Linked DNA regions of Homo sapiens. The protein of the gene in region 3 interacts with the protein of the main gene of each other region in a pairwise test. Each region holds a gene or a part of one and is shown on either strand. Other genes may lie near its edges. The genes, in order: BNIP2, COQ8A, DESI2 and SPART.

What was found.
Region 1: the proteins of DESI2 (region 3) and BNIP2 interact in binary tests that used the Homo sapiens proteins (3 or more experiments, as listed by UniProt).
Region 2: the proteins of DESI2 (region 3) and COQ8A interact in binary tests that used the Homo sapiens proteins (3 or more experiments, as listed by UniProt).
Region 4: the proteins of DESI2 (region 3) and SPART interact in binary tests that used the Homo sapiens proteins (3 or more experiments, as listed by UniProt).

What each region holds. Positions count from the first base shown.
Region 1 is NC_000015.10:59,665,290-59,672,324, reverse strand, and holds part of BNIP2 (BCL2/adenovirus E1B 19 kDa protein-interacting protein 2), read left to right. Parts: intron 1-1,010; coding exon 1,011-1,142; intron 1,143-2,962; coding exon 2,963-3,049; intron 3,050-3,334; coding exon 3,335-3,433; intron 3,434-4,186; coding exon of another isoform or gene 4,187-4,222; intron 4,223-7,035.
Region 2 is NC_000001.11:226,943,282-226,950,316, forward strand, and holds part of COQ8A (atypical kinase COQ8A, mitochondrial), read left to right. Parts: intron 1-33; exon of another isoform or gene 34-122; intron 123-6,201; exon of another isoform or gene 6,202-6,354; intron 6,355-7,035. UniProt on the Homo sapiens protein: Atypical kinase involved in the biosynthesis of coenzyme Q, also named ubiquinone, an essential lipid-soluble electron transporter for aerobic cellular respiration.
Region 3 is NC_000001.11:244,705,102-244,709,544, forward strand, and holds the end of DESI2 (deubiquitinase DESI2), read left to right. Parts: intron 1-454; coding exon 455-688; 3' UTR 689-3,932; downstream 3,933-4,443. UniProt on the Homo sapiens protein: Has deubiquitinating activity towards 'Lys-48'- and 'Lys-63'-linked polyubiquitin chains. Deubiquitinates 'Lys-48'-linked polyubiquitination of RPS7 leading to its stabilization.
Region 4 is NC_000013.11:36,308,378-36,315,412, reverse strand, and holds part of SPART (spartin), read left to right. Parts: intron 1-991; coding exon 992-1,186; intron 1,187-1,330; exon of another isoform or gene 1,331-1,445; intron 1,446-2,935; coding exon 2,936-3,094; intron 3,095-3,177; coding exon 3,178-3,268; intron 3,269-7,035. UniProt on the Homo sapiens protein: Lipophagy receptor that plays an important role in lipid droplet (LD) turnover in motor neurons.

The DNA.
Region 1 (7,035 bases), on a different chromosome or scaffold from region 3:
TCTACCCTGGGTGACAGAGTAAGACCCTGTCTCAGAAAAATAAATATCCCAGATCTTTTCACGTGCAAGTTTGTGAACAACAGAATGAAGGTTAAAGTAAAAGTATTTGTTACTAGATACAGGACTAGATGAGTCCTTATTCTTTGATATTATGGAACGATAGTTTTCCAATTCAAGAGAAAAATTGTCATTTTAAAACTGGGAAATATATCTCAGATTATTTGTTCCAACTTTGTTTCGTTTTGTTTTGAGATGGAGTTTCACTCTGTCACCCAGGCTGGAGTGCAGTGGTACAACTACGGCTCCCTGCAGCCTTGACCTCACGGGCTCAAGCCATCCTCCTACCTCAGCCTCCCTAGTGGCTGGGACTGCAGGCACATGTCACCACATCCTGCTGACTTCTTAATTTTTGGTAGAGACAGAGTCTCACTATGTTGCCAGGGTTGGTCTCAAACTCCTGGGCTCAAGTAAGCCACCATGCCTTACCTGTCCCAACTGTTTTATGTTAACATTTGCAGGCACATTAAGTGTAAAGAAGTGATTTTTGTCTCAAAATCATGTGGCTAAATTACATTTACCCCTAGAAGGCCAATATAATTGAGCCAAATCAGTTCTTTTTCCACAAGGTCATTCTATTTCTCAGGTTAGTGCAGTTTTTAAAAACCGTATTGTGGAAAGTTTCAGACATACACAGGGGTAAAGAGAAGTATATCAAATCTTCATGTATCAGTCACTTCAACAATTACCAATTTATACTTTGTTCCCACTTCTAACCCCCAGTTTACAAGTTTGAAGCAAATCCCAGGAGCAAATCATTTCACCTAGAAACATTTCAAAATATATCTCTAAAAAATAAGATAATCGTAATACTAGCTAATGCGGTTTGAGCATTTTCATTGTTGCTCTCATTGTAGGAGAGAGGAAGGAATTGTATAATGGTACAATTTAGAGAACCTAGTTCAGTTATGCACAGTGATTTTTAAGGCTTAAACTTAATTTGTTTTTTACAGATATGTTATTGGCACTTTGGAGCTATTAGTAGCAGAAAACTACATGATAGTTTATTTAAATGGTGCAACAACTCGAAGAAAAATGCCCAGTCTGGGATGGCTCAGGAAATGTTATCAGCAAATTGATAGAAGGTAATACAAATACAAGTTGAAAGCTAGTCTGAAAAAATTTTATAATGGCTTTAGGAAATCAAACTTTGTTTTTCGTTGCTATTTTTTTTTTTTAACTTTTTTTTTTTTTGAGACGGAGTTTCACTCTTGTTGCCCAGGCTGGAGTGCAATGGCACAATCTCGGTTCACCGCAACCTCCACCTCCCAGGTTCAAGCGATTCTCCTGCCTCAGCCTCCCAAGTAGCTGGGATTACAGGCATGCGCCACCACGCCCAGCTAATGTTGTATTTTTTGTAGAGACGGGGTTTCTCCATGTTGGTCAGGCTGGTCTCGAACTCCTGACCTTAGGTGATCCACCCGCCTCGGCCTCCTGAAGTGCTGGGATTACAGGCGTGAGCCACCGCGCCCAGCCTTCTGTTGCTATTTTAAAACACCATTTATTTTTTAAATTTTATTTATTTATTTCATGGCAGGTTTCTGTTTTCTAAAGATAGCATTTTAGAATATTGTGAGGGAAATCAATTTTGATTTTTCTATAAAGAATAACCTTAATTCTTCAAACTTACAAAGTAGCTTTATATTTCTCCTTATTTAATTGAAGACTTTCTCCTTATTTATAAGATGCAATTTTCTCCACATTGAACACTTTTTTTCCTATTATTTACGTCTTGGCAAAGGATGGAGAATGTAGTATGTTTCCTATTTCATTACATTGAGTTTTGCCTAATTTATAGTGCTTAGCATGTTTTATGTTTTTGTTTTTGTTTTGTTTTGAGACAGGGTCTCACTCTGTCATCTAGGCTGGAGTGCAGTGGTGCAATCTCTGCTCACTGTAGCGGCAACCTCCCAAGCTCAGGTTATTCTGCCACCTCAGCCTCCCAGGTAGCTGGGACTACAGGCATGTGCCACCACACCCAGCTAATTTTTGTATTTTTTGTAGAGACAGCGTTTTGACATGTTGCCCAGGCTGGTTCTTGAACTCCTGGACTAAAGCGATCCACCTGCCTCAGCCTCCCAAAGTGCTAGGATTACAGGCATGAGCCACAGCGCTCAGTATTTATGTTTTTTAATGGTGCTTATTTAGTTGTAATCTTTCTTTGGAACAAGCTTTAGAAGTGTTTTGTCTTGGGAGTTAGTCATCAGTACTTAATGGAAGGAATGTGATCTTCCGATTGGTTTGATCTTGCTGTGGCTAATTTAAATCAAGTCAGACCCATTAATAGGTTTCTCTTCACATCTAAATTTGACATTGGCTAGCTCTTATGATTATATATGTATCTCACTTTATGTGTGAAATATGCATAATACAAAGAGTATTTAGTCATTTAAAAAGGAGAAGTCTAGGATAAAACCTTTAATTTTTAATCAAAACTTTAAATTCCTTAAGAATAGGAGTTAGATCTGATTTGTTTTTGTTCCTGTGGTCATCTTCTCCACTCACACTTCTCTGCCTGCACAGTGCTTTTCATGGTTTTGAAGAACTTAGCACCAATTTCTCCCTAGTCTTGGAAAATGAGAATAGTTTACTTTTACATTCAGTATTGGCCTCTTTCCCTGTTTACAGAGTCCTGAAGACAAGTGAATGTGTATGCTAGGAGACATTTAGTAACAGGCTATACTGTGGACGTAAATCTGGCCAAATGAAGTAAAGTTCATTTCATAGCAGTAGGAGGGACCATAAGAATTTAAGAGTGCATTTTCTTGTCTACAGGGGTATCACACCTAATTGAGAACTTTTGGGTGAGATTTTTCAACTATTATTTTGTATAAACTTGCAGCATTAGAATTTATAGAAATTTTTAATTTTCTTTGTGTGTGTGTGTTTTTTTTTTAAACTCCAGGTTACGGAAAAATCTAAAATCCCTAATCATTGTACATCCTTCTTGGTTTATCAGAACACTTCTGGCTGTTACAAGACCATTTATTAGGTAATTTTTGAGAGCCATTGACTTTAATTTTATTTTTTTTATTTATTTATTTTTAGTTAACACATAATAACTATACATACTTATGGGATACAGAGCTATATTTTGATATGTGTATACATTGTATAATGATCAAACCTGGGTGATTAGTACATCCATCACCTCAGACATTTATCATCTTTTTGTGTTTTGAACATTCAAAATGACATGATTTTTGTATCTTGTAAACATTGTATCCATTGTATTTGTCAGAAATATGGAAGTAATTATTTTTATTTTCTTCCATAGCTCGAAATTCAGCCAAAAAATTAGATACGTGTTTAATTTGGCAGAACTAGCAGAACTTGTCCCCATGGAATACGTTGGCATACCAGAATGCATAAAACAGTATGTTTTGTTTTATTTCCTTAATTGTATTGGATCTTAACATTTTGATGTGCAATGGATAATACTTTTCAATACTCATTCTTTATGTATTATATTTTATAACTGTGCGCGCGCGCGCGTGTGTGTGTGTGTGTAACAAAGAAAAAGAGGAAGAAGCCATTTTCCCACACCATCCCCCTAAGTTAGCATTTTCTTCAGGCTGTCAGTTGAAGAACTAGGATAAATTATTTCCGGTTGTGATTCATGTTATACTTTTATAGACTACTTATAATCTAAGAGATGATTTCTCTAATTGATCAGTACTAAAGAGCATTCTCCAAACTTGAACATAGTGCTCAACAAATTTGAGTAAACTGATCATCAATATTATTATTGAATAATCATATTGCTAAATAAATAAAAATATTTAAATCATCATAACCTTAATGTTTTCCAGTGACTGAAATTCTGTTCTGATTATCAGATTCACATTCTTCCATGTAACTTCTTGGACTTGGTAGAAGGCTGTTAACATAAATAACTGAGTATTACAATGCATGTGGAAAAGTTTCTTTGTTCTGCTCACCTGAGGTTTTAGTCTATTTAATGTATGAAAGTCAGATTTATTAAGTAAATTTTTACTTTCTACATCATGTAGTAAATATTTTTGGTTTTGCTGGAAAATTTAAATGAGTTTATTTTTAGTAGCTTTTTTCAAGTTTTTATTCATTTTCATAACATGTATATTTACTGAAATAACTCTTCCCTACAAAGGTATGAAGAAGAAAAGTTTAAAAAGAAACAAAAAAGGTATATGCACACCTTGACTGGGTTGCATCTAGACTAGTCCATTTGCATTGCAGACTAACTCTTCCTTATTGGTTGGTTAGCTTGTAGACAAAGATAATAGCATTTGCAAATATAAATGTACCCCAACTTCCAAATACAGGGTGAACCCAGAGTTCCTAAGGCTGAATATGACTTGGATTCACCATGTTTTATTGCCATATATGATGCCAATTAGCAATTAAAAACCACAGACCCTTCTCTCTCCTTCTTAGTCTAAGTACTAATGGTGAAACCAGAGAAATTACTAAAAATGGTATTTGGAACACCAAATAATTTTAAGACTTTATCTGTTTCACCATTTTCTTTAAATCGCTAACTTGTGCTTTTGAAATATTTTTGCAGACTTTTTAAAAGTTCTCAATTTATTTCCCTGGGGTTGATTATTATATTTGCAATGCATATATACTTTGGCTAACCAACATTGGTTTCCTTTTATGCTTAAATTAAATGGCTTGCTAACCAGTCAAATTCTACATGTGATAAAATACCTAAAATCTCAGTGTCCCATTTAACAGTTAAACACTTCACTTTCTATTTTAAATTTAATTTTGAACACTTCTGCTTTGAGCATAACAAACTATTATCTATTGATACCTTGACATAGATGATGAAAGGCAAGGGTATAAAATACTTAGAATTTTGTATAATAATTTAGAAAAACGTAGAATTTAGATCTAGTTTGTTAGATCTTTAAAATATTGGCAATTAAATTAGCAAAACATAGTTTAATACAATCTTAAGAGTTACGGTGAGAGATTTATATGTAATTATCTTGACCATTCTAAGGAGCCAACTGTAACTAACTGGAACATTCTTAACTTTGAACACATTTTGTTTCTGTTGATGAGTGAGAATTTAGTAGACTTTGTGATAGAATCAGTTTTACACTTCTATATGACACTTCACAGTTTAACCAACACTTTAACATAGAAATGTAGACAGTGATTTTAGATCATGCTGATTTCACATTCCTTTCTAGGCATTGCTGTGCATTCGACAGACAAGTGGCTGAAATTAAAAATATGATTTGTAATTGTAGAATATTTTGAAGCCAGCTGCTTCATAGATTTCACAGTGAATTGCCTTTGTTGATAAAATATGCTGTATTAAGCCTTTTTAAAAAAAGTTTTTAATACTGTTAAGTAATTTAGACATCAGAAAAAATATGGAATTTGTACTTTTTATTTAAATATATTGTTTGAAACCTGTCACTATTTTATCTTGATTTTTTTTTTACTTGTGTTTAACCATAAATAGAATGATTACATGTATCTTTCAAAAACGTTCTGTTTTTTGTAGTTTCTTTAGTCTTAAAAAATAATAAATTTTTGTCAATCTGAAAATGATAAAATTTAATTTTTAAATTAAATTTAGGTAGAGAGGCATGTTTTGTTTTGAGACAGAGTTTCACTCTTGTCACCCAGGCAGGAGTGCAATGGCCCAGTCTCAGCTAACTGCAATCTCTGCCTCCCGGGTTCAAGCGATTCTGCTGCCTCAGCCCCCCAAGTAGCTGGGATTACAGGCACCCACCACCATGCCTGGCTAATTTTTGCATTTTTAGTAGAGACTGGGTTTCACCATGTTGGCCAGGATGGTCTCGAACTCCTGATCTCAAGTGATCCACCCACCTCGGCCTCCCAAAGTGCTGGGATTACAGGCGTCAGCTACCACGCCCAGCCTAAACCAAACTTTACAGAAGCTAGGTGCAAGGGAGCTTATTTAAGGTGACAACTGCATGATATGATAAGTAGTGGTGCTAAGAAGAGTATGAAGCTATGAGTCCCTATGGCAGGTTTTTGGGGAGCAGGGGAAGAAGGGGCAAAACCATTTTCTTGAGGGGCTTGTGGGGAAGAGGGTTGAAGAAATGTTGACAACAGGGAGATCCAGTGTCCCCAGTGACAGAAAAAGGATAGCAGTTTAAATGTTTAAAATGTTTCTTTCAAACAACTGGATGCAAGTGTGGCCATGCAGATACAGATTGTTAAAATGTTTCAGGGGAGTTTAAAAATAATTATGAAATTAGTTGGTAAGGATATTTCAGATGTTAAGAGGATTTGATATATTTTGCATGCCTTATCAGAAATACATTCCAAATTTTTTATAACAATATTTTAAATATTTTAAAATGTTACTTTGGCTTTACCACAGACCAGGGCTTTTAGGTCTGTTTCACTAATATTCAGGTGGGCATAGTAATGGGTGATGAGAATAAAAACATATGAAAAATATTTTTCTTTATCTAATACCGGATTGTTTTAAAGGTCCCTTCATCAGTTATTCAGACCACTACAAATGTAATAGTAATAGACTGTTAGCTTTGAAGGGTTGTCTGTAATTATTATGTGGTAATTATGTAATCCTTCTAATGCCCACATGCGTAAATTTTGATATGACTGATGTCCAACCCACCACTAAATAAATAAGCTTTTTGATGGGTTTTTGTTTTGTTTTTTTGAGACAGGGTCTTGCTCTGTCACCCAGGCTGGAGTGCAGTGGTGCAGTCTCGGTTCACTGTCGCCTCCGTCTCCAGGGCTCAAGCAATCCTTCCACCTCAGCCTTCTGAGTAGCTGGGACTACAAGTGCACACTACCACACCTGGCTAATTTTTGTATTTTTTGTAGAGACGGAGTTTTGCCATGTTGCCCAGGCTGGTCTCAAACTCCTGGTCAAGCAGTCCGCCCGCCTCGGCCTTCCAAAGTGCTGGGATCATAGGTGTAAGCCACTGTGTCTAGCCAATAATTAATTTATATTAGATATTTTTGAATGTTAAATTC
Region 2 (7,035 bases), about 18 Mb from region 3:
GAATATTTAGACAGAGAGTTGTCTTGATTTGACAGTGGCATCTGGAGATACTTCTGTCATTCCTGTTAAGCAACAGCCAGGAACTCGGGAGAGCCAGTGGAAAGGAGAGCTGGTGGGAGTGAGTGAGTTCGAGGGTCCTGCTCTTTCTGGAGTTGCACATATGGAGGGGTGGGAGCCCCACGGAGGTGGTTTGTGAGAAGTGAGGATGGCCCGAGTCCCCAAGGGGAGATAGAACTGAAGGCATGGATTCAAAGAAATTTATGCAGGTGGAATTTCTAGACTGACTACCTGACTGGATATATGGCTGAGATTTCTAATCAGGGGGAGGAGCTGGTTGATGGAGGAAGAGCTGGTTTGGGAGAAGGTGGTCATCTTAGTTTTAGACATGATGGGAGCCTATGGGACTTCTTTCCATCCTGTTTGATATAATTTGCATACGGTAAATTCATCCTTCTTAGTGTGCAGTTCTGCGCAGTTTGACAAACGCACATAGTCACATAACCCCTACCACAATCAAGCTATAGAACAATTTCATCACCCTCCGAAATTTCCCTGCACCCCTTTCCAGTTGCCTGTGGGTCTTTGAAGTGGTGATGCGGTATGTGTGTGTGTAACTTGGTTTGTTCTGGAAATGGGTTCGGTTGTTGAGAGGTCCTGCCTGGCCTGAGTGTGGGGAGGCATCAGTGCAGAGCCTGTGGAGGGGCTCTGGCACCCCAGGAGCCAGTGCAGATGGCAGGGAGGCAGGGGTGTCGAGGACCAGCCTGGGAACTCCCAGGCCTTGGAGTAGGTGGAGAAAGAGGAGCTGGGGGAGGAAGCTGAGGAGGTGAGGCCAGAGAGGAGGGAGGAGGGAGGGCTTCTGGGAAGAGTGTGGGGCCAGCAGGGAACACTGTGGGGCAGGGGGTGGCTGAGGAGACCCACTGGCTTGAGCCCTCAGGTGTCACAGAGGGGCAGCTTGGGGTTGGGGCCAGAAAGTGTGTGCCGAGGGAGCAGGGAAGATGGCAAGTGCACTCCATCCTTGGGAGATGGTAGCCATGTCCAGAGGGTGGAGGAGAAGCAGAGCCTATGGGAGGTTTATTTAAATGTTTGGTACAGGAGAGCAGAGAGTGGGCTTGTGGGCTTCAGGGGAGGGCTTTTATGATTGAAGGCAAAAGAAAAAAATAGGTCAGGGGCAAGGTCTTGTTGCGGGAAGGAGGAGGGATGGTCAGTGTGGGAGGAGATTGGACAGAGGCAGGGGAAGGGTCTGAGAGATGTGGCCAAGAATGTGCGGGCCCTCCTATCTGGTTGCCCCCATTTCTGGAGTAACAAAGGTCCGCTAAAGAGGGGTCGAGGCCTTCTGTTTAATGTGAGAGGGCCAGGGGTGGGGGCTTGAAGAGCCTTAGGTGCCTCAGCATCCTTTGAGGAGTTGTACCCTGAGAGAGAGAGAGAGAGAGAGAGAGAGAGAGAGAGAGAGAGAGAGAGAGAGAGAGAGTGAGAGAGAGAGAGTGAGAGAGAGAGAGTGAGAGAGAGAGAGTGTGTGTGTATGTGTAGAAGGGAGGCAGGAAGGTAGGTGTTTCCGGGTCATTTGGAAAAGCCCAGTCCCTTATCTCTCCCTACCTCTGCACCGTCCACTGGAATTTTCCATTTCCCAGAGGTGTGTTTCCTGAGAGACAGAGAGGCTGTAGCGCCCCTCTCTGCCTTTCTGAAGACAGCAGGGTTGGTCTGCCTCTTACCTCTCACTATTTCATAGAATCTCTAGAAGGATCAGTATCTGCGTTGTTTTGAGCATTACTCTTTCTAGACCCCGTTACATCCCAGCTTTCAGAACAGCCCTGTGTGTGCTCTCCTTGCTGACTTTCTGCACTCCAGGGATGCATGGCCCTTTCCTAATCTCTGGGAACTAGACCTCCTCCAGGTCAGTCGCCTCACTTACACATGAGGAAATGAGAAAACGCAGGCCCCAAGAGGAGAAGCGGTGTGCCTGAGGTCACCCGCGCTTGGTGGCCTTGCTGTTGGTCCTCCCCGTCGGCCCTCATCACAATATATGCGGTGTCATCTGGGAACTGGAGGACCTGGTGGCAAGTCCCTGCTGTTCACGGGGCTGGATGAGGGGTCCTGGGGACAGTCCACATGAAAAGAAATGTTAAAGTTCAAGCTCAGAGCCTGGGCCCCAGCCCAGTGTTTGTTCTGTGCTTGGCACATTTTTTGTTTGGCACTGATACTGGCTCAGAGGAGGGTAAAAGTAAGAGTCGATTGCCCGGTAAGCTGAAGGTGGTTACTGTTTGACACGTGCTTGAGCAAACATCTCTAATCTTCCCGAGATTGAAAAAATCCTGTGGCTCTTGCTCCCTAAGGTGTTTACAGCCAGCATGTGGTCAAGGGTTGGACATTGTGCTGCCGCGATGCCTGTTGTAGCTGCTGTTTACACCTGCTTGGTGCTCACGGTTCATGGGCCAGGGCTGATTGGCCTGCTGAGGAACAGCTGCCTGCTGGCTTCAGCCCCTCCTCTTTTCCCTCAGTCTTAGACAGGGACGGGGGTGACGCAGAGGAAGCAGTAGCAGTGACTGCGTCCCCTGCTCCCTCCCTGGGTCTGTGTGCCCACCATGAGCGGGATTATGAAGCTGGCTTGGAAACTCATCTGGCTTTTGCTCCTGTAAAAATCACTTTTTGAACAGGGTGCTGCTGCCATTTCTGTGGCTGTGCATGTTGGGGATTCAGGTTCCCCTGGTGCTCAGCCTCCTCGGTGGTCTCTTCAGTCCTGGGCTCTCGATGAGGGAGCTCAGGAAGCCACGGAGCCTGGGTGCCTGGGTCCTGCCTCACTGACTCATAATGCTAATAAACTCGTGTGTATGAGGACAGTGCCAGACCCCGTTGGGGGTACAGAACTGGGAAAGAGAGGGCCCCTCCCTCCGGAGCTTACCTTGCAGTAAGGGAAATGGGACAGGCACACACAGAGTCATACAGGGCATGGCGAGGTGACCTTAGGCCATTAAGAGATGAGGGAGTTTAGAGGAAAGGAGATGACTTGCCTATGGAGGGGTTTACCAGTCCAGCAGGGTGGCCAAGATTCCAGCAGGGGAAATGATATTCCATGGGGAGGAGGGAGCAGGATGTGGAAGCTGGAAAACCTGTGTGGGTGTTGGGCGGGGCCGGGGGTCCATTCTGGCTGAAGCGTTGGGGCACGGAGGCATCTAGCGAGAGGTATCGCTGCAGAGGTGTCTGGGGCTCCACAGTGAAGGGCCTTGCTGGCCAGGCCAGACCAGGGAGAGTGGAGATCAGCAAGGAGATGGCCACCTCTCCTGGGTCTGTGGTCCCCTTGCACCCTGCTGAGCCTCTTCTCATTTCTCGTTGCGTGTGTGGTTGTTGTCTGTCTAGGATTGCCCCTTGTCTGGGTTAACTGGGTGATTTTAAAAGCTATCGAGGTTTTACATACACATGTAGTGCCTAAGGGTTGTGTGTGACCTCAGGGCAGAACATGTTTATTTAACTTCCATACCAGTGATGTGTGCATGTCCACACCTGGCCTGTGTGTGGCATTTGGAGGTGATGCTAATAAAGGTTGGTGCTGGTGTTGAGTGTGGCAAGACTGAGGGCCGTGTGCCCGATGGCTCCTCCTAGCTCTTGCACACCCAGAGGCAGTCTTCAGTGTAGGGCGTCTGCCTCTTTCCACTATTTATGTTTAAGATCAAACTGGCTCTGGAACCAAGCTTTGCCTCTAGTGGGTAGGATCACTGGTGCTGAGAATTGTGATACCCTCAGTCCTGGCAGCTGACAAACTTTCCAGAGCAGGGAGTTTGGCCAGATGGCCTTTGAGAGCCCAGCTGGCCCCAGAATTTTTATGACTCAATTTTCTGTAACCAGGAAGACACATTTCAGGATGTAAACCTTGCTGATGTCTCATATTGAGTGACTATTGATTTAACAAAAAAGGAGTTATTGATTTGGGGCAGTGTTCTTCTCTGCTATCTCTCAGCTTCCTAGGCAGTAAGAAGAAAGGACTGGAGCCTGAGTCAGACAGGTGTGGAAGGGTCCAGCATCCCACAGCTTTGGCCCTTAGGAGATTGCTCAGCCTTGATGAGCTTTAATTATCCTATCAATGAGTGGGGATAATACCTCACCAGGTCTTTGTAAGAACTAGAGGTAATATAAAGTGACAGGCAGACAGAGGGGAATAATAAATGGTAGCTGTTCTTGTTATTATTCCTATTTCATTGAGATATTAAACCTGAAGTAAAAGTGTTTTGAAAGATTAAGAATATAAAACCGAGGCCAGGCACGGTGACTCACACCTATAATCCCAGCACTTTGGGAGGCCGAGGTGGGCAGATCACTTGAGGTCGGGGGTTCGAGACCAGCCTGAGCAACATGGTGAAACCCTGTCTCTACTAAAAATACAAACAAATTAGCCAGGTGTGGTGGTACCCACCTGTAGTCCTAGCTACTCAGGATAATCACCTGTGCCTGGGGAGGTTGAGGCTGCAGTGAGCTGTGATCATGCCACTGAATTCCAACCTAGGCAACAGTAAGACCCTGTCTCAAAAAAATATATATATATATATATCTATCTGCCTGGCATGTAGTATGGGCCCAATATAGAGAAAGTCAACAGGACTCCGTCATTAAGAACAGGAATGCACTGAGCTGTCTGTGGGGTAGTCTACCACCCAGCTTGGTGCCTCGCACTTGGTTGGCATTCAGTAGTATTTGTGGAGTGACCAAAGTTAATTTAGAAGAATGGTCTGGAAATTATTCTAGAATACAGCCCCTCTCCCCAACCCAAGGATCTGCTTTAATTTCCTATGGCTGTTGTGATAAATTACCACAAAGTTTGTGGCTCAAAGCATCATAAATGTATGATCTTACAGTTCTGGAGGTTAGAAGTCTGAAATTGGTCTCACTAGGCTAGAATCAAGGTATCAGCTGGGCTGGTTCATTTCTGGAGGCTCAAGGGCAGGACCCGACCCCTTGCCTTTTCCAGCCTAGAGGCTGCCTGCATTCCTTGGCTTGTGGCCTCTTCCTCACAATGGCATCACTCCAGCCTCACTTCTGTCTCCCATCACCTCGTTCTGACTCTGCCCTGCCTGCCTCCCTCTTATATGGGCCCTTGTGATTACATTGGGCCCACCTGGATAATCCCCCATCTCAGGATCCCTGACTTCATCATATCTGCAAAGTCCCATTTGCAGGTAACATTCACAGGTTCTGGGGATTGTGGTATGGGTATCTTTGAGACACCATTATTCAGCCTACCACAGCCACCCACAGTATTTTGGCCAGATTTAAAGACAACCCTGTAAGCGTCTGAAAGAAACGTTGAAAGAAACCCTTCAACCTCAACTTTAGGATCCTTAATTACCTTCCTGGGTGGCAGTGGTTCGTGAATTCAGTCAACGCTTGCGCTTGTAATTTGTGTGGGTGGATCACTCTGTGTGTGTGGGTGGAGTGGGAAGAGTCAGAGTTGTCTGAGACAAGAGCCTCCCACAAGGAGCTTATAGTTTGAAGAGAAGAGAGGTCCATGTGCAAGAAGAAGAGTAACTTACAATGTAGGAATCTGACCAGCAAGTTAGATCAGCTGTCAGGAGAACGTAAATATGGAAGAGCTGGGAATCAAGGGCCTGAATAGGAATACGTTCTTGAATTTATATGGTGCTTTAACACATTTCAAAGTATATCCACCCACCCCTCCATTTATATTGGACAATATAATAACTTATACCATCATTTCGAGGAGAGGAAACAGGTCAGAGATGGTTCGAGAATATGCCTGGAGCAGCCCAGCTGGTCAGGGCAGAGCTGATTCCCAGCCCCAAGGCCCCAAGGCCCTCACCCTTGGCTAATGGGTGGGTTTTCAGACGTACAGAGATGAAGGGGCGAGCGGGCCTGCCTGAGAAAGTAGGACCTGCAGAGTGGAGTGCGCTCACATGGCTCGCGCGTAGCTGGAGGCTGGAAAGGAGGCCGGGGGCCTGATTTCGATGCCTGGGACTTCAGGCGCAGGAGTTTGGGTTTTATATATATGTCTACATACATGTCTACAGGTAGAGGAGCCATTTGAGCAACGCGTTGGCATGATGAACGTGGGTTTTTTTATAGGGAGAGGAATCTGGCAGGAGAGTGTTCCATGGCTCGGAGCTGGGGAGCTTGTGGGAGTTAGAGGGGTTTTCTTCCCAACTGCCTCTCCCTGAATGTACCTGGACAAAAGCCTCCCATGCTGTTTTCTCCTTTAAGGTGAAGTGGTAAGGAATACCAGTGGACATTTGTGTCCCTGGTTTCGAAGCAGGCTGCCAGCACTTTGGACTGCCTCTCCTGAATGATGCCTCATACCACAGCACTAAATAAACCACACTGGTCCTCCCCAGCCCAGCCTTCCTCCCAACTCAGGTATGAGACTGTGCCTGGCAGGAACAACTGCGGGTTATCCAGACTGATCCCATTCACCCTAACCGTTGGTCTCACCAAGTCTGAACTTCATTCCAGAATGTCTGTGTGCTTGCAATACTACTACTAATAATAATGGCATTAGCTAATGGTTTTTAAGCACCTACTATATGTCCTGAATGCTGTTACATGGATTTATCCAGTCCTTTCAAGAACAGATGAGGAAACTGAGGCACAAAGATAAGCTCACATGACTTGATTTAGGTCACACTAGCAAGTCAGTGGCAGAGTCATGATGTGAACCCAGATCACCTAACCTCAGAGCATCTTAACCATGTCACCAGTATCACTTCCTGAGCCAAATATTTTAATTTAAATGTTTTAAGCAGTAAACTTCACTAGGTTTTTAGTCAGAAAACTAAATTGCCATCAGGACCTTGCGCTTGGCTGGTTGGCCTTTAAAAGCCTTGTGTGTCATCGGCTATATCAACTCACAGAGTGGGAGAGGCTGCTTGGGACCCTCTGTTGCCTGCCTGTGGTTGGAGCTCTGAGCCCATGCAGGTTCGCTCACAGTGTTGGGTCCTTCTCTGGACTATCATCAGAGGCTGGAACTTTGCCTTCTGCTGCTTTTATATCACCCCCAACCCTGCCCAGCTCCCAACCCAGTGCTCACCACAGGGCAAC
Region 3 (4,443 bases):
AGGGGAAAGTCAAAAAGAATCTGTGAAAAAGAAGAATTCACAAATAGGAAAATATCCAAGATTGACTCTTCCAATTGCCTGGGGCTTCTATTACTCTAATAATATATTGTATTAACAAGCGTCTTCTGTGTGTTCAAAGTACTTTTCAGTGTGTCTCACAGCAGTTGCAGAGATCAAAGAAAGGAGCCAAGTGAAATTAGCTTGATTTCACAGATATGAAAAGTAAGCAACTTGACAAGGTTCTTTAGAAAGGAAGGAATGGAGCCAACAGTAGGGAGCCCAGGTCCTGAGTAAAGAGCTGCTTGTTATCAAAAGCCTGGAGTGACACCACTGAAGGCTAGTCTGCCGTGGCTTCTCTGTACGCCGCCCCCCTCCTCCCACCCTCCACTCCCTGGCAGTGGACCAGGTAATCTTAACCTCTCTTACCTAATACAGAACTCTTTCTCTTCTGTAGATTCTTTGTGGGAAAGAGATTCCTCGCTGGATCAATCGACTTGCCTACTTCAGCTCCTGTATACCCTTTCTACAGAGTTGCCTCCCGAAGGAGTGGCTCACGCCCGCAGCCCTGCAGTCTAGTGTCAGCCAAGAACTCCAGGATGAACTGGAGGAAGCAGAGGATGCTGCCGCATCCGCTTCCGTGGCAAGCACTGCAGCAGGCTCCAGACCCGGGCGCCACACTAAACTATAAATGTCTCCAAAGTCACACATTCAGAACTGTCTCTGGCAGTCGAATATCACTAGAGAAAAGTAAACAGAGAAGCATCCTTTAGATATTTTGTATGCAAAGATGGCTCTCCCCCAAATCCCAGTTTTTCAGCTCAGGATTATATTTGTAATCAAAAAAAAAAAATCACTTGGCGCAGGAGGGAGAACTTTGTAAGAAGCTGCCCTCTGTTTTTTTTATCCACTCGTAAATCTGGATTTATTTCTTCTGTTTTATACAAGCTCTGTTAAGTTATGTTTACAGTATCTTGTATCGCTGTTTACAAATCTTGCATGGACTCCTGCCACAGTGAAAGAAGAAAATCTTCATGTCTTCAAAAATTAGGCAGGTAATCTTTGTATACTTCTGACAATTGCCAGATCTATGGCATAAATAGGCACACAAAAAGGTACTTAAACAGTTATAGTCACCATCACCTGCTTCAGAATGGTCTTTTAGATTTGTGTTTGTTTTGTTAAAGTTGTTGGCACCAGGATGCAGAGAATCAGACTGGCCTGAGGTGAAGGAGCACACAGCCCTGAGGGCTTGGAACCCTGGGTCCAGTTCCTCTTCACACCCCCTTCCACTCTGAGTAGCACATCTCCCCAGGTGCCCATGGAACACCTGCTTTCATCCCAAATATCCGTCCACCTAGGCGGGGTGGTATGTTCTTACGTCTCTCTGACTTTGATGCCACTCATTCTATAGTTTAGCTGGTTTTCGTTCAAGATATTCTTGGTAGTAACTGACAAGTATGTTGCACATGTATTGGGGGAGGCGCTTCATTTTTATTTTAATACACATGTATTTCCTCCTTGCACAGGATTTTGATGGTGTGGGAATATCCTAAGTGGTAGCCTTCCAAGTAGCAGTGAGTTGACATTCAGCTGCTTTTAACTATTCAGGCTACCTTTTATACTAAACCTTGAAAACTAGAATCTAATGTCTACCCCAAAAAAGTAGTTCTTTGATATTTTATACTTTTTATGTACCATGTCAGAAAGAGTATGTTGGCGTTTGTCATGGGACTCATTTCACATAATAGAATGCCTAGTCTCATTGACCAATCGTTAAAAAATCATATTTGTGTGTCTTAAGATTCATATTTATATGTTCTCTCAAATGTATGTCTCTTACGTAACATACTCTAAGAATGAAACTGTCACCACAGGTAAATCCTTGTTAGCAAGGAATCTGTCTGCTCCAGTCTACTCCTAGTTTGATCCTTGGATGTAAGAACCAAGTCATTACATGTCAAATTCAATTTTTCTGCCTTAAGAATGAATGTCCTTCATAAAATATTGGATGCAGTGTAACACTATCCAAGGCAGTGACTTCAGCTTTATATACATATAAAATATAGTTAGTTTTAAAATTATTGACATTTATTTAAACTTTTAGATTGGATTGTTTGCTATTGCTCTGTGTGAGGATACATAATCTTTCAGTAAACTGTATTTTTAACTTTTCCATAAGCTGATTTTGGTTCATTTTATCAACGTAAGCACACCCTGTTCATAGGGAAAATAAACCTTGGGTTATAAGCATTAGCCTGAGGACAATGAAGCCACTTAACCTAATTTATGCTTTCGACTGTTCTGTTTCCAGAGAGGAAAGCCTTTACAAATTACTCTCAGTTCTTTAGGGGCAGAAGGCTTGTTTCAAGAGGTTTGACAGAAGAAAGGAATATATGAACTTAATGAGATGTCGACTTGGTTCAGGTCTAAAAATGAGGGCAAAACACTAAGGCTCTAGCAGTGACTTGTTCACTAAAAAGAGAGAGTCCTGTCCCCAGACGGTTAGTACAAAGCCTTGGATACAGTTTGCTTGTAATATTTTTAATAATGTGAGGAGTACAGTGTTTTCTAATTCATTCAAGTATATATGATTTAAACCTGGGCTACTGACACACACACAGTAGCCATTAGTTAGACTCTTCTTAGTGAATATCAGGAACATCCCATCTGTGCTTAACCAGAATCCAGCAAGTCAGCACACAAGTGATTTTATTGTTATTTTGTTGTATTTACTTGCATTTGTTGTATTTACTTTCATCTGCAGCATTTGGAGTTTAAAAATAATGTAAAGGGTTCTAGTAGAAATAGTGTCCTAAGGCCAATTACCTACCATACTAACAATCAGCAGATAAAATTCTGGACGTGAGATTCCTTATAATCTAATTATACCTGAGGTTGAGCAAGAAATGTCTTCCTTTAGAAAATCTCATTCAAGTCAGGTTCTTCTCTACAGTTCAAAATTGAGAATGGATTTAATTAACTAGCATTTAGCCAGCTTTTTCTTGCCCTTGGAGAAAAAGAATCATTCTCAACCTGATAATCTGTTAAGAAAAATCCCATATGAACAATCTGGTCATTAACATACATATGATACGGAGTCTCTTTGTTGTCACCAAGTGAACATACTTCTCATGGTGGGTTGGACAGTAATACATGTTAGAGGGTCAGAAGCTTCTGGTTTCTGCTGTTTGCTTTAAATACCCTTGGGGTTTTTTTTTAAACCCTTACAAGGGGAGCATCAGCTTTGGAAAGTGTGACTCTGTAGGAGTGTAGAAGGCAGTGGTGTATGATCTTAGCCTCGTCCTGATGCCTGAATCCAGCCAGCTGTTGCTCTGACCCACAGCAATAGAGCAAGTTACCCATCACCAGCATTTGTACAGAGCAGGGAATTCTGGTTTTAGTCCATTGGTAGCATTGTGTGTATGAGGAGATTCAACACCACAGACAGCTGCAGGACTCGATATCCATGGCTTCTTTCCATCACAAAACGGGTAGAAACACATTCACTGCTTCAGGGTTCTAATCTGTGTGTCTCCTTATGACTCCATTTCTGTAAGCTACTCTGTAACTTTGATATATGCTGTATTTTCTTTCTTTAAAAGATTTAGATGTTTTTTCAGCAAGCTAGCCATACAACCATTGTATCTCTTTCTCTTCAGTATGGTTTAGAGCCCAGATCAGTTAGTAGGCTTTCGTTGTCTTCTCTTTCAATACATGTACATCTTTACTGTTTGAAAAGTGTTACAGCTGTCAAAGAATCTTCATGGACCTGAAGATAATTTCTTGTGAAGTTGAATGCAAGTGTACTGTCATTCATAGTGTTTATATCAAAATACCAGGAATCTTCACTTTTGCTACCTTGATATAGCATTGGGCTATCATGTTACAACATTGAAATACATTGATTTATTAAAAAATACTTTTATAAGAAATGTTTTATAGTGCTTTCTTTCAGATTATAACTGTTGTGTATTTGTGTTGGGCGGGGTGGGGAGGTATATTTTTAAAACCCAAGCATCCCGTGTGCTCGGCAGGAACATGACGGCCAGCCCCTCCATCCTTTCTTCCTCTCACATGCACATGTACCTTTATTCACCTGCATTGATCTTGAGCGCAGATCTGTGGGCCCAGTGCCTTAGCTGTCAGATAGCATAGCCACACCTGCTCACAGGGAGGGGTGCCAGCCCTGACTTCTGGGGAATGGAGGCAGAGGGGCAAGCTAGAACGGACTCCTCCCCCAGAGTGCAGGGAACAGACCTGCAGAGGAATAGCCCCGACTTATGCACACACTGTCCCTTGTCTTGAAGCAGCAAAGCAAGCAGGAGCCTGAGAGAATGAGCTCATTTCCTACGGACCTGTTCTCCAATGCTTGGCACCTCCAACCTGCCCCTTCCCCTTTCTCCTCCACTGGCCTTTTTGCACACTGTGGAGCAATATTTTCCT
Region 4 (7,035 bases), on a different chromosome or scaffold from region 3:
AGTATTTCATATGTTCAGCTTTGAAAGCTCATTGTTAAGTGTTAGCCAAAAAAGAAATATTTTAAATTGAAAGTCTCTGCAGAGTAGGGTAATACTTCTTCCATCTTAGGGGACACTGTTCTTACATGTTTTTTCTTTTCCCATCCCTCTCCCACTCCTTTCCCCACATTTCCACTGGCTGAGGACCTTTTGTCCTCACTAGAGAAGGCCCTTCCATCCCTCTGTTCCTCTGGTGAGCACTTCTGTCATTCAAGCTGCGAGAACATAAGCAAAGCAAAGCAAAGGGCTAGGGCCCACTGTCATGAGAAATGGCCAAATTATCTGGGCCTCACTCTTCTTCTTTTAGATTTTCTCTACTCATGCATTTGAGTGTTCTCATGTTTTTGTCATTCAGGTATGTGTAGCAAGCTAAACGGTGCTGAGATCCAAGAGTTTGGGTTTAGGATTCAGGAAGGAACAGGACCCCCTGACTAAAGCTTTTAGCCTAAAGAAAGTAAGAGTTCTGCCTTGGTGTTTGAGAGGCAGTTTCTTTGGTTTCCATTTTGTGATGTTTCTGTCTTTCTCCCTCAAGATTTCATGGGGAAAAGAGATGCCTGGCCTAAGGCAAAAAGAACAAGAATATCTGGGTTCTTTGGCCAAATTCTATCTTAATGGCACCAAAACTAAAAATTAATACCTAACAGTAATATACTGTGGTAAGTAACATATAGAGATACTGTTTGTGGTCATCTTCAGAAATTATCAGCTGCCACTAAATCTCAGGCCTTCTAGGTACTAGGTAGTGGCAGCATAGAGTAACGCAGAACTGTGTCACTAAGTATTCAGGAAGAAAACTGCAGGTATAAAGTTAGCTTGAAAGTTTATGACATGGCACATTTAGCATCTGAATATCAAACTCCTTTTATTTTTTTCTGGTTGATGTTATTTATTAAAGTGTTCAAAAGCATAATTAGCCCTAATATTGTGCAATTTTAAATTTTCTTTTAAAAAGGTGCTTCCTGGGTGAGTTGGGGTTTAGTCAAAGGTGCTGAGATTACTGGTAAGGCAATCCAGAAAGGTGCTTCTAAACTCCGAGAGCGGATTCAACCAGAAGAAAAACCCGTGGAAGTTAGTCCAGCTGTCACCAAGGGACTTTATATAGCGAAGCAAGCTACAGGAGGAGCAGCAAAAGTCAGTCAGTTCCTGGGTAAAGTAATTCTAGATAACTTTACTTTTTAAAGTTATATTTAAAATAATGTCTTAATCCAGGGTTAATCTGCATGTTCATTTAGATGGTTTAATCTCAAGAATAAAGAATTAGGACAAAGCAGTTTCTCTTTGTTATTCATAGTGAGACCTGCGGACCAGCAACATCACATCGTCCTATCTGGAATCCTTAGAAATGCAGAATTTTAGGGACAGACACACCTACTGATTCAGAATCTGCATTTTCACAAGATCCCTAGGTGATTCTTATTTGCACATTAAAGTTTGAGAAACTGGTTAAAGGGTTGTTCTGATGTGTTGGAGAGGAGAATGTGTGTATCTTTGAAAAAGAGTTCTGAATGTAAAGTCATGTATTGTTTAACGCAGGAGGTAAGTTCTAAGAAATGTGTCATTAGGTGATTTCATCATTGTGTGAACATCATAGCATGTACTCACACAAACCTAAACGTTGCCACTCCACACCTAGGCTATATGATATAGCCTATTGCTCCTAAGTACAAACCTATACACCATGTGACTGTACTGAATACTATAGGAAATTGTAACACAATGGTAAGTATTTGTGCATTTAAACACATCTAAACATAGAAAAGGTGCAGCAAGAATGCAGTATATAAAAGATAAAAAATGGCATAAAAACTGTAGAGAGCACTTACCAGAAGTGTCACTTGCAGGACTGGAAGTTGCTCTGAGTGAGTCACTGAGTGAGTGGTGAGTGAATGTGAAGGCCTAGGACATTACTATACACTATTGTAGACTTTTTAACACTGTACACTTGGGCCACACTAAATTTATTTTAAAAACAAAGTAATTGCACTATGATGTTATGGCGGCTGTGGTGTTACTAGGCAGTGGGACTTAATCAGCTCCATTATAATCTTATGGGACCATGAAATGTCTGAAATGACCAAACCATCATTATGCAGCATGACTGGATGTGAATCCTTGAGTCCTTCTAAGGGATATGACACATTCTTTCAAGGAGAGCAGTTTACTGCTTAGCAGTTGAGGGTCAAGAGGGAGGGATCTGTTGTTTGAGAAAAACTGACTTAGTGATTCTGGTGCCAACCTTCCCAAGCAATGTACTTCTAAATCCTTGCTCTTAGAGAATCACAGCACTGAAATTTGGTGTTTTGAGGTGGGTAGATAGGACCTTAATGGATTACCATTAAATTTAGTAAAATTATCTTTTTTGGTATTTAGTATTTTTTGAATCAGATTTTAGATTGTTTACTTTTATTCACCGAGATAACTGAGATATTTATCAGTAGAAAAATATGAATACGCTAAGCTGGAATAAGCTAAAAGTACCAACCAATCTTGCATTGCAACAGTCAGATAGAAAAGGTGGCTGGTTTTCTCAAGCAGAAGTGCAAGAGCATGTATATCTGAGAGGCAAGGTTATAAACATCAGTAGGCTCTGCAAGCACAGCTTTAAAGCAAACAAAAGCTTTCATTTAAAAAATAACCAGTCTATGCTTCATGCCTGTAGTCCCAGCTACTCAGGAGGCAGAGGCAGGAGGATCACTTGAGCCCAGGAGTACAAGTCAAGGCCAGCCTGGGCAACATAGTGAGACCTCCTCTCTAAGCTTCATATCCTTAAGAAGAAATTGTAACATTATATAGTAAAACAATTTAGATGTTCATTTAAGAATGTTGCAAGATGAGTGGTAAAAATCAAGGGAATAATATATTTTTCCTAAGTTTTCTTTTTTTATGGTCATATTAGTTGATGGAGTTTGCACTGTAGCAAATTGCGTTGGAAAAGAACTAGCTCCACATGTCAAGAAGCATGGAAGCAAACTTGTTCCAGAATCTCTTAAAAAAGACAAAGATGGGAAATCTCCTCTGGATGGTGCTATGGTTGTAGCAGCAAGTAGTGTTCAAGGTAACAAAGGGCCCAGAATTTTAACTATGAAGGTCCGTTTGCTTTGGACTAGATTTACATCGTTTTAAATATTATTTTTACAGGATTTTCAACTGTCTGGCAAGGATTGGAATGTGCAGCTAAATGCATCGTTAACAATGTTTCAGCAGAAACTGTACAAACTGTCAGATACAAGTAAGTTGAATTTTATTTTAATGACTAAATCTCTGTTTTGTTGTTGTTGTTGTTTTTCTGAGAGGGAGTTTCTCTTGTTGCCCAAGCTGGAGTGCAATGGCGCGATCTTAGGTCACTGCAACCTCCACCTCCCAGGTTCAGGCATTTCTCCTGCCTCAGCCTCCCGAGTAGCTGGGATTGCAGGCACACGCCACCATGCCCGGCTAATTTTTTTTTTTTAGTAGAAATGGGGTTTCACCACATTAGCCAGGCTGGTCTCGAACTCCTGACCTCAGGTGATCTGCCTGCCTCAGCCTCCCAAAGTGCTGGGATTACAGGCGTAAGCCACCATGCCTGGCGGACTAAATCTCTTGTAGCATTTGTAAAAACCCATGACGGTCAAGATATTTTTATTAAGTATCTGATAAAATAATTTTTTTCACTCACTGCTTTTCTTAAATAGGGAGAAGAATAGTATTTCTAGTATAATAACAGAATTCTTGTCACTTTGCTTTATGTTACTAATCATTATAAACATTTGTTCATCATTACTGTGAAGAATAAGGTTATTTTTTTTAAAAGCCTGGAATTTCTGTATACCTTATTAACTGACTACATGTTTTTGATGGGTGATATCTGCCTGAAAAAACTTGAATTATAATTAAACTCTTATACCCCATGTTAATATTAGCCCACTCGGTATACAGACTGTTAAAAATTATGTCACATCTTACTTGACTCTGATTACCACTGTACATTTGTATTGGAATGGGTAGATGGTATATCTTCAATTTCATATATTAAGAAATGGACAAACAGAAATGAATGATTTGCACAAACTCACCTGATTAGTGTTATGATTGCTTTCTTATTTGGCCTTAAGGTCTGTCTCTGGAGAGTGGCTATAAATTCTAATCCTGCTGTGTTGTGGCTCAAGAGGAAAAAATCTCGTGAATGTTTTCAGTGTGCGTTTCACAGGATACTTCTTTATCCTGGCACACCCATGACCAGGTGTCCCTCTCTCAGGGAACTTGTTTATGGCAGATGCCCTTGTGGCTCTTTTCTGACCTGTGTCCAGTTTATTCCTACTAAGATAGCTACTCTCTAGGAGACCCTGACTAGGAGGAGAGCAAGGTTTGGGTGTGTTGGTCAGGTGACACACAGAGAAGGCAGCACAACCAAACACACGAAATAACAGAAACTTTTTATTACTCACAGACCCTTGAGAGAAGAGCGGTATGCATGAGGGCCAACAGGAAGTCTGGAGATAGCAGAGTGCTCAACCAGTGGGTGGGGCGAGGGTGGGTGAACAAGGGAGCACGAGCAAGGGAGAGGTGATTTGTGTGACTGCCTTCACGAAAGTCTATGGGTGTTCTTCCTTTGGCTTTCCAGTGGGGCCTGTGGATTGACTAGTTTAAAGAAAACAAGTGTGAACAGGGGAACATTTACATGGCTCTAGTTTTACATGACTCTAGTGTTGACCATTGGATTTTCTCGTGGTCAGCAGCTGTGGGGGTGTGTTGGGTTTTGAGTCAGTGAGATGAGAAACAAGTATACTGTATTGCAGACAACCGCATGGGGGAGAGAGAAGTTTTAACTAGGCCAAAGGTGGTGGGATACAACTAGGTTTCAAGCAACTTATGTCAGGCCTAAAAATAAATGCTGAAGCAACAACTATATAACAAATTTATACAAGTGGTATTGAAGGTGAGAGTAAAGCAGGGTCTTCTGCTTTTAGCTCCTTATTCTTTCTACCTGACTCTACTTTCTTTATACAATACTAGAAGAATCAAGGTCTAAAAAATAAATCTAGTATGAAGGACCTGAGTTGCTTTCTTAGCCTTGAATTAGTTTGGATCTTACTATTTATTTAGAAAGAAAAAAGAAGAGCAATATTGATAGTATTCACAACTCGTGGTTATTTATGTTAATTATCCACTTATTGACAGCATTTAGTTGAGTTCATACTTTTGTATTAGGCACTGTGATCATTGCTTTTCCTACGTATTAATTAATTTTCAACACTGTTATCTCCATTTTGCAGATGAGGAAACCGAAATGTAAAGTTAAATACCTTGTTAAAGATTACTCTCCTAGTGAATAGTAGAGCTGGGATATAAACCAAGTGTTTCTGTCATCAGAACCTGTGCTCTACAGTGCTAATTTAATTTCCATCCTTAATTGGTTCGATCTGCTCCGTCTGGGGCATGAATACATTTGTTTGTTTGTTTTAAGATAGGAAGTAGGAATTGCTTTATTTTTACTTTTTTTATAATTTCAACTATTATTATAGATTAAAGGGTACATGTGCAGGCTTGTTACATAGAATTTGTTGTGTGATGCTGAGGTTTGGGGTACAAATGATCCCATCACTCAGGTAGTAAGCATAGTACCCAATAGATGGTCTTTTAGCTCACACTCCCCTCCTCCCTCCCCGGCCTAGTAATCCCCAGTGTCTATTGTTGTCATCTTTATGTCCATGAGTATCCAGTGTTTATTTCCCATTTATAAGTGAGAACATGTGGTTTTCTGTTCCTGCATTAATTCGCTTAGAATAATGGCCTCCAGCTGCATCCATGTTGCTGCAAAGGATATGATTTCATTTTTTTAGGGCTGTGTAGTATTCCATGGTGTATATATTAGCATGTTTTCTTTGTGCAGTCCACTGTTGATGGGTACCTAGGTTGATCCCATGTCTTTGCTGTTATGAATAGTGCAGTGAACATGTGAGTGAGTGCATGTGTCTTTTTGATAGAACAGTTTATTTTCTTTTGGGTATCAAATGGTAATTCCATTTTAAGTTTTTTGAGATATCTCCCAAAAGTGGCTGAACTAGTTTACATTCTGGGACATACATACCTTTGAATCAAATCAAAGCAATGTGGCATATCATTTTGGAGTGTCAGTTTTTTTTTTTTTTTTGAGACGGAGTTTCACTCTGTCACCCAGGCTGGAGTGCAGTGGCGCAATCTTGGCTCACTGCAACCTCCGCCTCCCAGGTTCACACCATTCTCCTGCCTCAGCCTCCCTAGTAGCTGGGACTACAGGTGTCCGCCACCATGACCGGCTAATTTTTTGTATGTTCAGTACAGACAGGGTTTCACTGTGTTAGCCAGGATGGTCTTGATCACCTGATTTCGTGATCTGCCCACCTCGGCCTCCCAAAGTTCTGGGATTACAGGCGTGAGCCACCACACCTGGCCAGAGTATCAGTTTTACCAAGAGTTGAGAGATAAAACATACAATAGATCTCAAATTCTTCTGATAGAAATATGAAACTCAAGTCTTCCAACTCACTTCTTGTCACCTGTGGCCTGAACTCTAATATTCATTCATTGTTTTATGACCCTGAGGTTACTTTGGATCAGTCATAATTAGAAAAATAGTTCTTTATTTGTAGCAAGAACAGGAGAAATTCAGAAATGCCTTTCAGGCCAAAAGTGAATTATTTTTAGATTATCATATTAGAAAATAGGAAGTGCTTTGTTGGGTTTTATGGCCTACTCTAATGAAAAAAAAAAAAAAAAACTTACCTAACTACAATTAGCTTATTAAAAGTTTGGGATTCACATAACTAGGAAATACTGGATTTTAATGTAGATTTTGTACTTCTGGTCCTTAATGAGAACTTAATATGATAAATAGCATATTTTTAACAGTGATTCTCAGCTCATTTATTTCTATTGTATTATTGCTATTCTTTTTATCCTTTCTTCCAAAGATTCATGGAATTTAAATAAAAACCAGGTAAGTGAGAATTTAGTTAAGTAGCTTTGTATTTCTAACTA